Regions from separate parts of the Homo sapiens genome. Here region 1 is linked to region 2. The links come from fine-mapping of genetic effects on gene expression. Tissue or cell type: monocytes after R848. Region 2 holds a variant in brackets; the other region holds the start of a gene. All regions are shown on one strand. Distances are from middle to middle.

Region 1 (6,470 bases), 190 kb after region 2:
TTCTTTTCTCCTACTTGCTTATGGGGGTTTTCTAATTTTGTTTTACAGAAAACATGCATTACTTCTGGAATAAAAAGTTATAACTTTGTTTTTTGGACTAAGGGGTTGTTACTTTCTAACTGTAGGAATACATGTATTGTAAAATAAAGAATTTTTACTATTATGTTTGAAGAGTTGTATTAAAGCTTTAAGAGTTATATTAAAGATCTATCAAATTTGTGTCTTTAAGTCTTTACTGGAGTGGCCTGTAGGTCCCAATTTTAGCTTTAGCCTCTTTAATTAAAAATTGTGCAGAGAAGACCTTTGAGGTTCATGAGGATATTTGTAACCGGCTGGGTGGTTTTTCTTAGCCAAGCAAAACAAAATAGTCCTAGGGAAATAAAATTAGCTGGGCTCAAAGGAAAAGAGATAGCTCTGCATTTGGTCACCTACACCTCAAATTAATCCTACCCCTTGGCAGGATGCCACACCACACGGAGTCAAATGAACAAGGTGCAGGCAGATGCCCTCCCAGCTCCTCTCTCTAAGCCTACTCCACCTTCATCAGCCACTGGCTTTTCCTCTCCACTTCGTGTAAGTTTGGAGTTCTGGCCTGTAAATTAGGTCATCAACCACTTCACCTTGAAAGGAGAAAAACACGAAGAGCTTAAGCAGTTTATCTATGCTCTTACAGCTCTTTAGTGTCAGAGCAGTGTGTTCACCTAGAAACTGCTGTTAAAATTCCAAATGACAGCAAGTCAAGCACCGCTGCTGTTCAACAGTTTCCTTCTCACATTAAAAATGGAATAATGGATATATCCACGACTGAAAATCCTACTCAGTAATAAACAATAAACACGAACACACTGATTTAAGCAACGGACATAAAAGAATCTCAAAAACATTAGGCTGCGGGAAAGAAACCAGACACAAAAGAATACCTACTGTATGGTTCCACTTACCTAAAGGCAAAACTAACTTGGAATGATAAAAATCAGATCAGTAGTTCCCTGGAGTCAGGGGAGAGTGAGGAATACCTGGCAAATAGGTGCGTCGGAATTCAGGGGGAGGGGCGATATTGATTACAGGGTAAATACATTTGCTAAAACACACATAACTGTGTTCTTCACAATCATGTAAGATAAGGAACTTAATCCCAAGGGGCCTACTGGCACCAGACTAGAAAGATGCAGCCCTCGGGTATTCTACTTTTGCTACTTTTGTTTCTATCATGGAGAGAAGATGTTAGAAAATTTGGAAAGGAGTCTCCTCAGATGGATTTTGTGGCACCTCCTACATAGAGGTAGGGGAGGAAGTCGAAAGCCCGCCCACCCAATAGATCCAGAGGCACCGACCTTGGGAGGGGAGAAGGGTGGACAGCGGGGACACTCACCACTTAGCAGGCTCTCTGGGTGATAGCCACAGTCCAGCAATTCTGAAATGCTGGCCGGGTTCTTGCTGCTCAAACTGCCAGTTGCAACCATGGTCAACGGCTCTGTTTCCTTCGCGAGGCGCAACGGCCTTTCCTGAGCGCTGGAAAAAATGAGGCGAGAAGAGACGGATTTGCAAAAGCAGGCGAGTCGTGCAGAGGCTCCTAAAATGCCCGGCGTCCCGGGAGCGAACTAGCGGAGGAACTCCTTTGCCAAAGGGGTGGAACCGGCCTCTGCAACTCAATTTGACAAAGCCCTGGGAGCGGAGCCGCAACCTGAAACTAACTCAACAGTTCGCAAAACTTGGAAGCGACCTGCCCCGCGGAGCGCCCCCCGGCCCCGCTGCCCCCACCAAGGCCGCAGCTTCGCTCACCTGCCAGGAGTTCGCGGGGGCCTGCGCGCTCGCTGCCGGGTAAACACAGGCAGGTGGCTTCTTAGGAGTCCCCTCTCCTGGGGACTCGGTGACCTGCAGACCCCAGCAGCCAGCGGCACCCTGCTCACCCCTCCCGGGCCACCCTGCGCCGGCTCCTCGCAGTAGCATAGCCTCCGGGGCAGCGAGAACTTTATAGGTCCAGTCCCCACCCTGCTCAGGCCCGCCCACCTGCACCGCCCCTCCCCGGCCAGCGCCCCGCCCCTCCCCTCCAGAGTCTGGTCCCCTTTCAACCTCTACACTTCCAGGGAGCCCGAGCCTAGCCACAGGGAGTTGAGGATAAGCCTGTGGTAGAGCGGACACCTGTTGCTTCCAGGGTAGATCTCGGGCCACTGGGACCGCAATTCCGGGTGCACGACTCGTCAAAGCCTGAACCTGATTGTTCAGTGCGACCCCTCCCCGAGCGTCCGCGCTTTCACACTCAGGCTGCTCCCGGCAGCGGGAAGCTTTAAGCGATCTGTGCATTTCCTTGTCCTGGGGCTTTGCTGTGTCATCCTGAACACTTGGCTTAAATCTGTTGCAACGTCCACTGAGCATCATTTATGCACTTATTTCTGGCCTCTAACCCAGTCAACTCTACTCTGCCTCCCAGGGTTTCTGTATCCTCCTCTGCTGCAAGCGGTCAGATCTAGTTTTCCTTTCCCGCATCGAAGGCTCGCCAGCATTTTAAGAAGGGCCTTAATGACCCCACGCACTCCGTGGCTCCCTGGCATTCTTCGTGCACTTACATCTGTGGCTAATGCGTTTTCTTCGCAGGAAGGGTGAGCCTGGCACTCTTCTAATTAGACCTTGCCCCAGAGCGCGGGGAGCTTGAATTGAGCGGGAGTTTGCCAAGAAACACACAATACCATTAGTAGGATCTTAGGTACTCCTCTATCCGTGCATCGAGAGCAACTGTCATTTCCGGAGGCAGAAGTTTCTGGCGAGCCCTGTTGGGAGGATCTTTGGTTTGGGATATTTTGAAGAGGTTTCAGAGACTGAAGATAAAGAGTTTTATATTCTGCTGGGGATCAGCAGATAATCCCTGTGAGGGCTCCGTGCGGTCCTGCACAGGAACACACAGAGAGGCAGAGGAGCCCTGGAAAGAGGCAACATGCCCGCATAGCCCATGAGCAAGAAGCCAAACCTGATTTTTTTCTTCCAAAGTTATTAAGCCACGGTTTTCTCGCTTTGGTGTGCCAGTAGGAGATGATCTGTTCAGAGAGTCAGCTTGGGGTGCGTTAGGGGATGCCTGGAGGGAGAAGGTTGTTCCTACAGTAGAGATCCCAGTGTTGGCTCCCAGGCCCTCTAGGATTATGTGTAGAAGGATTTGCAGGTTAGAACCTTGAAAGGCAGTTTCAGCTGTCCTGGCATAAAACTCTTAGAAAAACAACAACAGAAGGGGTATAGAGGGTGTGATAAACAGATCAGTGGGAGGACATTCGGACGCAGAGCAGCAGAAATTAAAGCCAGCTTGACAGTCCATTTTTAACTCAGTTCAGGCAGCTGCACTGCCTGAAGGTCAGGCGAGCCAAGGAAGGAGATGCTGATAGACTGGTCTTTGAAGGCCAGTTTCCACTTCTACTTCAATAAACAGAAAAGTGGAAAATAAACAAGCCCATTTAAGCCAATTAAAAAGCGGTTTCAGTGGCTAGGGTGTTCAGGACCAATGGATGGGCCCATGGTCAGGAGTTGGATGCCAGCCGCCTGACAGTCAGTCCCTGGGCAGGCCACAGAGCCTCTTGTCCTTGTCTGGGCAGCATTACTAATGAGGCTGCCACTTAACCTGCCTCCAAGGAGGATTTTTAGAATTAATATAATGAGTGGTCTGAACCAATACTAGCGAAATAAAGAAATTACTCGTTTCAATTTCCTTAGGGTATTTAGGCATAATTCATAGAGTAAATGCCCCCATAGGGCCAGAAAGATTATTGGAACTTACAGAAAGTAGTAGTTGCTCTTGGCCCACCTGACTAAATGAAATTTTGCAAAGCCCTTTGGGATTTGACTTCAGAAAACAATTTACTTATGTACAAAAGACTTCAAATAATATCTTCTTGGCTGAATGGGCCTTGCTCTCAGGACATACAGGGCATAAGGAATGATTGAGGTAAAACACATACCTGGAATAATTAAGAATGTCCTTTTTTATCTACTTAAAAGCGTAGAAAATCCATTCTATCACCAGTTTGCATCTTCACAAGGTTAAACAGAACTGATTTTTTAAAAATTTGAAGCATAGAGAAGAATTAGGAAAAACTAAGTGCCATTATAGGCTAAGTGCAAGGTGACACAGTCTATCAGATTTCAGAAAAATGTGGATACAGTCAATTATTTATAACTGAAAGTTCGCATTGGGGAACTTCAGGTGTTTATTAAGTGCAGTGATAAAGAAGTTTGTTTTATTGCTCTTTCATTATATCCTCTAACTAATACTATATAAACAGTTTGTGGGAGTGCTTACTGGAAATAGTTGTGTATGAATAGAAAATCTAGTCAGTTAAATAATTTGATTTCCTTTCATACACCAATGTATTATAAGAAACTATCTAAATCATAGGCAAAGGCTTTAACTTAAGCATGCTTGCTTTTTTATTACTATAATTCACTAATCCATCTTCTTACAGAAAGAAAATGAGATAGCAGTAACAACTGGCAACCATATGTTCATCTGATGTATTTGCAAATATTTAAGTTCTAGGCTTCCTCAGGTATAAATATAGTATTCATAATGTCATTGCTTATGTAAAGTATAAATTCACAATGCCAGGGATACTGAAAAAACAAAAAGCAAAAATGATGCTTTCATGTATTATTACAGGAAATGTTGGTGTCTTTTGCATTTGTGATTTGGAGTGTTGAATGTTCATTACGTGTTTCACTAGCCAATTTTCTGTCTTTATTTGGTATGAACACTTATTTTTGAATCTTATTAATACATTTACGTTCCACACATAGCTTATTTTATTTCATAAACTATGACACCTGAGGGAAAGTTACTGAGTTTCTTAATCTGTGCAATTCAGGGAAAACTTACAGGACATGGAAATTGATCTATACATTAGCAGTAAGCTCATGGGGTTATTGTAAGGATTAAAAGAGAAACCCTTAAAATCAATGCTAAATATTATCTCTTTTTTATAAACAAATATGAGATCTTTAAATGCACACTGCCTCTAGATTCCCTTAGTTGTGCTAAGTTTGTAAATTTGGTGTCTCATGCAAAGTGCTTAGAACCAAACTAATACTGATATTAGGCAAGAACTTAATGAGTGATATTATTATTATTGCTGTTATTATGTTCTGAAATTGTAGTTATCTGGGTCAGTGCAACAAGCAAGTGGCTAAATGGAGTTGGGGAAGTGTTGTTAAAGTATAAGAAAATTTATGATCTTTCCTGTTTGCAGGAAATCTGGAAAGTATTGGCACTGATTAGGAAAGCCTTTTTTATTATAATACATCCATCACTGTATGGGAAAGCAGGAAAGGATCTGCCAATGAAACGTAAGAAAATAATGTGGGTAAAAAATTATCTTGGTGTAAAATACAGAGTTTTATATGTTAACTTTCCTCTATTAATCTAGGAAATAGTTTTCTGGAAATAAATAACATCTACAGACAATTGAAACTATTGACTATAGAATGACGCAGTTGTTTCAAGGTATGTGTGATCATCTGTTAACATACTCGGTGAGATATTTAATCATAATTTTTATTTGCCTTTGAGGGTGCATCACCCAATACAATTTCCATTTAATTATTAAATATTCAATATGACTTATTCTGTTAAGTAAGGTAACATGGAAACTTATCTCGTATAAGACAAAAAGCAGGCCCAATACATAAAATAATACATAATGCTTGCTATTAAAAGCTGAGAGAATCTTCCAATAACACAAGGGTTTGCCTCTCTTTTTAAGCAGAGAAATGGTTACCATAGCAACTTGTCTCTTAATATAGTTATATGATTTTGTTCTCTTCATAAACAATGCTGTGTATTATCAGTCTTTAAATAGAGATAATATGTTTAAATGCATACAATATCTGCTTTTCCTTAATTATGGAAAAATGTATAATTCAGGTGACCATATCAGAGGATGTCAGCCAGGAACATGGAGTGGGTCCTTGACATTTGTCTAGCGATACATCTTAAAACTTTTACAAGTTCCAAATTTGAGAATACCACTATGCCATACCATTTTTTCTGGAATTTTAATGTGCACCAGGAGATGAGGAAAATAAAGCTACATGCTCATGTCAATGTTGGGTTCCTTACTGGTTTCCCTTCCTGTATCAACCAAGTGTCCTATTTTGGTGGGCCAGCCTTGCACAGCTTTTGTCATTGACATTTGTATCCTAGCAAAATTACACATTACTTCATGACATAAACCTGTGGGGTTGCTTAAGAAGAGAATTAAATCTGAGAATGCCTGAGTGTCGACTAGATATGGAATTCTGCAGGGTACTTTTTAGAATGGGATCTGATCTCCATTCTGCAGATTTAAAGCACATTAAGGTTAAGAAATTTGACTAGTCCAGAATGATTCAGTTTTTTCATCTTCATGGTGTAGTAGTTAGTGCATGAACTGTGCAGCCTAACTCCTAGCAGTGACATTTACTAGCTGTGTAACTTGGATTAGGTACTTAACATT
Region 2 (7,959 bases):
ATTGAGAGTTTTTAGCATGAAGGGTTGTTGAATTCTGTCAAAGGCTTTTTCTGCATCTATTGAGATAATCATGTGGTTTTTGTCTTTGGCTCTGTTTATATGCTGGATTACATTTATTGATTTGCGTATATTGAACCAGCCTTGCATCCCAGGGATGAAGCCCACTTGATCATGGTGGATAAGCTTTTTGATGTGCTGCTGGATTCATTTTGCCAGTATTTTATTGAGGATTTTTGCATCAATGTTCATCAAGGATATTGGTCTAAAATTCTCTTTTTTGGTTGTGTCTCTGCCCGGATTTGGTATCAGAATGATGCTGGCCTCATAAAATGAGTTAGGGAGGATTCCGTCTCTTTCTATTGATTGGAATACTTTCAGAAGGAATGGTACCAGTTCCTCCTTGTACCTCTGGTAGAATTCGGCTGTGAATCCATCTGGTCCTGGACTCTTTTTGGTTGGTAAACTATTGATTATTGCCACAATTTCAGATCCTGTTATTGGTCTATTCAGAGATTCAACTTCTTCCTGGTTTAGTCTTGGGAGAGTGTATGTGTCGAGGAATGTATCCATTTCTTCTAGATTTTCTAGTTTATTTGCATAGAGGTGTTTGTAGTATTCTCTGATGGTAGTTTGTATTTCTGTGGGATCGGTGGTGATATCCCCTTTATCATTTTTTATTGTGTCTATTTGATTCTTCTCTCTTTTTTTCTTTATTAGTCTTGCTAGCGGTCTATCAATTTTGTTGATCCTTTCAAAAAACCAGCTCCTGGATTCATTGATTTTTTGAAGGGTTTTTTGTGTCTCTATTTCCTTCAGTTCTGCTCTGATTTTAGTTATTTCTTGCCTTCTGCTAGCTTTTGAATGTGTTTGCTCTTGCTTTTCTAGTTCTTTTAATTGTGATGTTAGGGTGTCAATTTTGGATCTTTCCTGCTTTCTCTTGTAGGCATTTAGTGCTATAAATTTCCCTCTACACACTGCTTTGAATGCATCCCAGAGATTCTGGTATGTGGTGTCTTTGTTCTCGTTGGTTTCAAAGAACATCTTTATTTCTGCCTTCATTTCGTTATGTACCCAGTAGTCATTCAGGAGCAGGTTGTTCAGTTTCCATGTAGTTGAGCGGCTTTGAGTGAGATTCTTAATCCTGAGTTCTAGTTTGATTGCACTGTGGTCTGAGAGATAGTTTGTTATAATTTCTGTTCTTTTACATTTGCTGAGGAGAGCTTTACTTCCAACTATGTGGTCAATTTTGGAATAGGTGTGGTGTGGTGCTGAAAAAAATGTATATTCTGTTGATTTAGGGTGGAGAGTTCTGTAGATGTCTATTAGGTCCGCTTGGTGCAGAGCTGAGTTCAATTCCTGGGTATCCTTGTTGACTTTCTGTCTCGTTGATCTGTCTAATGTTGACAGTGGGGTGTTAAACTCTCCCATTATTAATGTGTGGGAGTCTAAGTCTCTTTGTAGGTCACTCAGGACTTGCTTTATGAATCTGGGTGCTCCTGTATTGGGTGCATAAATATTTAGGATAGTTAGCTCCTCTTGTTGAATTGATCCCTTTACCATTATGTAATGGCCTTCTTTGTCTCTTTTGATCTTTGTTGGTTTAAAGTCTGTTTTATCAGAGACTAGGATTGCAACCCCTGCCTTTTCTTGTTTTCCATTTGCTTGGTAGATCTTCCTCCATCCTTTTATTTTGAGCCTATGTGTGTCTCTGCACATGAGATGGGTTTCCTGAATACAGCACACTGATGGGTCTTGACTCTTTATCCAACTTGCCAGTCTGTGTCTTTTAATTGGAGAATTTAGTCCATTTATATTTAAAGTTAATATTGTTATGTGTGAATTTGATCCTGTCATTATGATGTTAGCTGGTGATTTTGCTCGTTAGTTGATGCAGTTTCTTCCTAGTCTCGATGGTCTTTACATTTTGGCATGATTTTGCAGCGGCTGGTACTGGTTGTTCCTTTCCATGTTTAGCGCTTCCTTCAGGAGCTCTTGTAGGGCAGGCCTGGTGGTGACAAAATCTCTCAGCATTTGCTTGTCTATAAAGTATTTTATTTCTCCTTCACTTATGAAGCTTAGTTTGGCTGGATATGAAATTCTGGGTTGAAAATTCTTTTCTTTAAGAATGTTGAATATTGGCCCCCACTCTCTTCTGGCTTGTAGGGTTTCTGCCGAGAGATCCGCTGTTAGTCTGATGGGCTTCCCTTTGAGGGTAACCCGACCTTTCTCTCTGGTTGCCCTTAACATTTTTTCCTTCATTTCAACTTTGGTGAATCTGACAATTATGTGTCTTGGAGTTGCTCTTCTCGAGGAGTATCTTTGTGGCATTCTCTGTATTTCCTGAATCTGAATGTTGGCCTGCCTTGCTAGATTGGGGAAGTTCTCCTGGATAATATCCTGCAGAGTGTTTTCCAACTTGGTTCCATTCTCCCCGTCACTTTCAGGTACACCAATCAGACGTAGATTTGGTCTTTTCACATAGTCCCATATTTCTTGGAGGCTTTGCTCATTTCTTTTTATTCTTTTTTCTCTAAACTTCCCTTCTCGCTTCATTTCATTCATTTCATCTTCCATTGCCGATACCCTTTCTTCCAGTTGATCGCATCGGCTCCTGAGGCTTCTGCATTCTTCACGTAGTTCTCGAGCCTTGGTTTTCAGCTCCATCAGCTCCTTTAAGCACTTCTCTGTATTGGTTATTCTAGTTATACATTCTTCTAAATTTTTTTCAAAGTTTTCAACTTGTTTGCCTTTGGTTTGAATGTCCTCCCGTAGCTCAGAGTAATTTGATCGTCTGAAGCCTTCTTCTCTCAGCTCGTCAAAATCATTCTCCATCCAGCTTTGTTCCGTTGCTGGTGAGGAACTGCGTCCCTTTGGAGGAGGAGAGGCGCTCTGCGTTTTAGAGTTTCCAGTTTTTCTGCTCTGTTTTTTCCCCATCTTTGTGGTTTTATCTACTTTTGGTCTTTGATGATGGTGATACACAGATGGGTTTTCGGTGTGGATGTCCTTTCTGGTTGTTAGTTTTCCTTCTAACAGACAGGACCCTCAGCTGCAGGTCTGTTGGAATACCCTGCCGTGTGAGGTGTCAGTGTGCCCCTGCTGGGGGGTGCCTCCCAGTTAGGCTGCTCGGGGGTCAGGGGTCAGGGACCCACTTGAGGAGGCAGTCTGCCAGTTCTCAGATCTCCAGCTGCGTGCTGGGAGAACCACTGCTCTATTCAAAGCTGTCAGACAGGGACACTTAAGTCTGCAGAGGTTACTGCTGTCTTTTTGTTTGTCTGTTCCCTGCCCCCAGAGGTGGAGCCTACAGAGGCAGGCAGGCCTCCTTGAGCTGTGGTGGGCTCCACCCAGTTCGAGCTTCCCGGCTGCTTTGTTTACCTAATCAAGCCTGGGCAATGGCGGGCGCCCCTCCCCCAGCCTCGCTGCCGCCTTGCAGTTTGATCTCAGACTGCTGTGCTAGCAATCAGCGAGATTCTGTGGGCGTAGGACCCTCTGAGCCAGGTGTGGGATATAGTCTCGTGGTGCGCCGTTTTTTAAGCCGGTCTGAAAAGCGCAATATTCGGGTGGGAGTGACCCGATTTTCCAGGTGCGTCCGTCACCCCCTTCTTTGACTCGGAAAGAGAACTCCCTGACCCC[T/G]TGTGCTTCCCAGGTGAGGCAATGCCTTGCCCTGCTTCGGCTCGCGCACGGTGCGCGCACCCACTGACCTGCGCCCACTGTCTGGCACTCCCTAGTGAGATGAACCCGGTACCTCAGATGGAAATGCAGAAATCACCCGTCTTCTGCATCGCTCACACTGGGAGCTGTAGACTGGAGCTGTTCCTATTCGGCCATCTTGGCTCCTCCAGAATCTACTCATTTTTAAGTGACTATTTCATTTGGAGAAATGGTCATAAAAGTCAGTTAGCATTTATAATTAAAACTCAGCTTTAGTTAAATTTAATTGTGTGTGCAGCAGAGCATAGAATTCAATTTCAAAATCCTGAACCATATTTTATGACTTGTCTTCATTAGCAGTTATTGGAAATTTGCTATCTCTCTACATGTATTCCTCATTTAATTCCCACAACTCTAGGAAGTAGGTACTAGTATGCCCATTTTAGAAATGAGAAAGCTGAGACATGAATAGATTAAGAAACTTACCCTAGACCAGTGTTTCTCAAACTTTATGTGCAAAAGAATCACCCAAGAGTCTTGATAATTTGCAAATTCTGACTTGGTAGGTCTGGGGTGAATCCTGAGATTCTGCATTTTTAATCAGCTCCCAGGTCAAGGCCAACACTGTTGGCTTGTGGATCATACATTGTGTAACAAGGTTCTAGATTACATGTCCTAGGGTCTTAACACTGCCTGTCTGACACTGAAACCCATGCACATAACCCCTATGCAGAGTATGCATTGACTTTTCTCTTTACTACATTGTAATTTACTTCCTACAGATGAAACAGTTACATTAGTTCTTGATGCATATACATTTGTGATGCAATTTTACCCTTGAGGAATATCCAGGGAAGCAAAGCATTACTGGGACCATCATCCTCATCCTAAAGGCTCTCTTCTACATCTGCCTCTTCTGGGACCACAGCTCCCAAAAGGAAACATAGAGGTGGCAGTGGCAGCTGACAATTTACCTTATTCTTTGGAATCTCAGGGTTTCTCCTGCTCAATGAGTGCAGCCATTCAACTTTGACTTCTCCTCCTCGATCCTCCCGTGAATATGTAGTATATAAAATCATACTATGCTTCATGCTTTCTTATGCATGTTTATTTAAATATATATATTATATGCATGTGCTTTCTTTACTTCTCATTTTACTTGGTATTCACAGTTCATTTTCTTCCAGTAAGTCTTTTTATCCTATTCTTTGTTTGTATCCCCAAACTCTTCCTTTGTGGTTACGCTATAATTTTAATATTTACCAAAAAAGAAGATTCAAGTTAGACACTTTTCATATTATATTACTTTGGTTAAATCAGCCTGGCCTAGAGGATTTCCTTTTCACCATTTTCTTTCTCATCAGGTGAGGTAGTTTGACTGACTTGGTTTGTTCAAGCAAAAGGACAATGGGAAATAAATCTAGGTGTTCAGCATAAAAACAGCTAATGACAAAGCTATTTTTAGGGACTTCTTGTCTTTCCTATGTTATTCTTTATGTCTGTTTGATATCTATTTTCTGGCTCTTATCTTTAAAAGACAGCTGCTTTGCCTCAGGCATAAATCAGAAGAGGAAAACCAGCTTCTGGACCTGGAGAGAGGATGAAAGGGAATAGGAATTGAGGGAAGCGGAAGGGAAGAATAAGGGACCCCTGGAGAGTCCCTACCAAGCCAGACATAACAAACAAAAGTCCTCTACTACTGAGGAAGACAGAACAGGGAAGCCAGCAGGGGAAGAAAAAGATGCTGCTGCTCTTGATGCCTCAAAAACAGCAAGGAAGAACCCAAGCAACTGATGTACACACCCTTGGAACAAATCTGCCCCAGAAGTACAAGACACACTCTTCGAATTCATGGAATAAATGGGAGGTGAGTGTTCAATTCCAAGACACAAGACAGAATTGGGCAAGAGGGAGGAATGCTACTACTTGTAAGTCATAGTTACATAAAAACAGCAACCACATTGTGTTTTTCTGTAATGCTCTAGATCTGTGGTCCCCAATATTTTTGGCACCAGGGACTGGTTTCCTGGAAGACAATTTTTCCACTGACTGATGATTCAAGCACATTACATTTATTGGGAACTTTATTTCTATTATTATTACATTGTAATATATAATGAAATAATTATACAAACCATAATGTAGAATTGGTGGGAGACCTGAGCTTGTTTTCCTGTGACTAGAGGGTCCCATCTGGGGGTGATGGGAGACAGTATCAGATCATCAGGCATTAGATTCTCATAAGGAGTGTGAACCTAGACCCCTCGCATGCACAGTTCACAATAGAATTCGCACTCCTATGAGAATCTAATGCTGCTGCTCATCTGACAGCGGGTGGAGCTTGGGCAGTAAAGCTCTGTAGCCCTGCTGATCACTTCCTGCTGTGCGGCAGGGTTCCTAGCAGGCCATAGACTGGTACCAGTCTGTGGCCCAGTGGTTGGGACCCCTGCTCTAGATTTAAGTGTTTGTAGATGAAGCACTTTAGCTTTCCCGGAAAATGTATTGAAGATAAATTTATTCAAAGTTATCATACATTTAAAAAACCCCACAAAACTCTTAACCCCTGTAACCCCAGTAGGTTTGGGAGGCCGAGCTGGGAGGATTGCTTGAGGCCAGGAGTTTGAGACCAGCACAGGTAATATTGAGAATCTCTGCTTTTACAAAACAACTCTCAAAATTTTATATGTACACACAAATTTGGACTTCCTGAATTAACCAGTTAATAGATTTTAAAATACACATTAACCCAAGAGGTAAATAATTCATCAAAATTCAGCAAAAATAATTACTTGACACCAGATAGCTAGTTTTACATTTTCCAATTTTTTAGCCAGTTGCTAGAAATCACATAAACACAGTCTGATTTTTATAAATTTGGCTGAAAAATTGAAGGACTATTATCAATTTCAGTTAACGTTTCTTTTTAAAAATTAGCTTAAGTTTGATATTGAAAATATAAAGCTTTTTAAAAATTGAAATGCTGCATGAAAGGAATAAAAATCATGTTATAATGTTAGTAGAGTTCTCAACCAGCTCACTCATATTTTAACATACTCTTACCCTAAGGTATTAAAGAGTGGATTATTTAAATACAGGTAAATAAAAGTGATAGGAGTTACAGAAATGGTGAAAAGAGGGAATGCTAGCAATTTTGTGGTGGCCAAATAAAAACAATGTATTTATCAGTAGATAAAAATGTGCAGATTAATTCTTATTTTAGATATCTGTGGCAGCTAGAAGTACAACTTTAGGCTCTTCAAGAATGACAGTTTTGATTTATATTATTCTCCACAGCTCCATTTAAGTACACTACTATGCTCTCTGCATTCCTTTTCTCTTACTTGATGGCTAATAGGCATTGCCATTCCTTGATATCTCTCAAAGAAATAAAACTAGAAGGATTTTTAAGGAGCATAAAAATTCAGCTCCCAGCTGTGTACACACACCCATACACACACACACTCACACTCACGAAGTTAGAGAGAAGCTCATAAAAACAACAACAATAAAAAGCCAGGGAATGTATAAATGTAGAACCTGAGTTTCTACTGAATATTCTTAAACAGAAACTACTAAACTACTGTAATTGTTGTGCTAACAGACAGCACTGATGTCTGAGTGAGAGTTTAAATATATGAAGATTATAAGACTATAGATAAATCTGCATATATAGCTTTTTTTTTTTTTTGAGACAAGCTCTCACTCTGTTGCCCAGGTTGGAGTACAGTGACACGATCATGGTCCACTGCATCCTCGACTTCCTGGGCTCAAGCAATCCTCCCTCCTCAGCCTCCCAAGTAGCTGGGACTGTACGTGCATGCCACTACACCCAGCTAATTTTCTCTAGTTTTTGCAGAGATGAGGTCTTGCTATATTGCTTAGGCTGGTCTCAAACCTCTGGGCTCAAGAGATCCTTCTGCCTTAGCCTCCCAAAATACTGAGATTATAGGCGTGAACCACCATGCCTGGCCACATATAGCACTTGTAAAAAAATGTTATAGTAATATATGCATGTGGTACAAAATTGAATGGTTATGCAGTAATCAGAAATCCCTCTATCCTAACCTTCATCCACCCAATCCTCCTCCTAGAGGCAACCACAATTAGCAATATCTTGAATATTTTTTCAGAGATACAACAAGAAAGATTTTAATCTCCCTTTAGTCCCTCAGTTGAAACTTAAGAGGTTTAGATTTCCGCTGACTTAAAAACAATGCAATGGAATTCTGGTCTTTGGTTCAGATCTGAAAACAACTTCCATTTATCAGTCCAGAAAACTGAGAACTTACTGGTTATATCACTAATGGTTCA

The links. PIP is the estimated chance that this variant, and not a neighbour inherited with it, causes the effect.
Region 1: it holds the start of DDIT4L, and the variant in region 2 is fine-mapped to the expression of DDIT4L in monocytes after R848 (Quach 2016, PIP 0.95).

Annotation. Positions count from the first base shown.
Region 1 is chr4:100,188,521-100,194,990 of GRCh38, forward strand. It overlaps DDIT4L (DNA damage inducible transcript 4 like), which reads right to left and starts at 1,948. Exons shown (of 3, transcript NM_145244.4): 1 at 1,783-1,948; 2 at 1,373-1,512. The coding sequence starts at 1,463. It overlaps DDIT4L-AS1 (DDIT4L antisense RNA 1), which reads left to right and starts at 1,513. Exons shown (of 5, transcript NR_125924.1): 1 at 1,513-1,554; 2 at 4,446-4,529; 3 at 5,226-5,322; 4 at 5,403-5,479.
Region 2 is chr4:100,002,717-100,010,675 of GRCh38, forward strand. The region is part of intron 1 of H2AZ1-DT (H2AZ1 divergent transcript); the gene reads left to right. Among named protein-coding and RNA genes, the nearest start is that of H2AZ1-DT, 56 kb to the left of the region's middle. The variant T/G (reference allele first, on the strand shown) is at 3,631.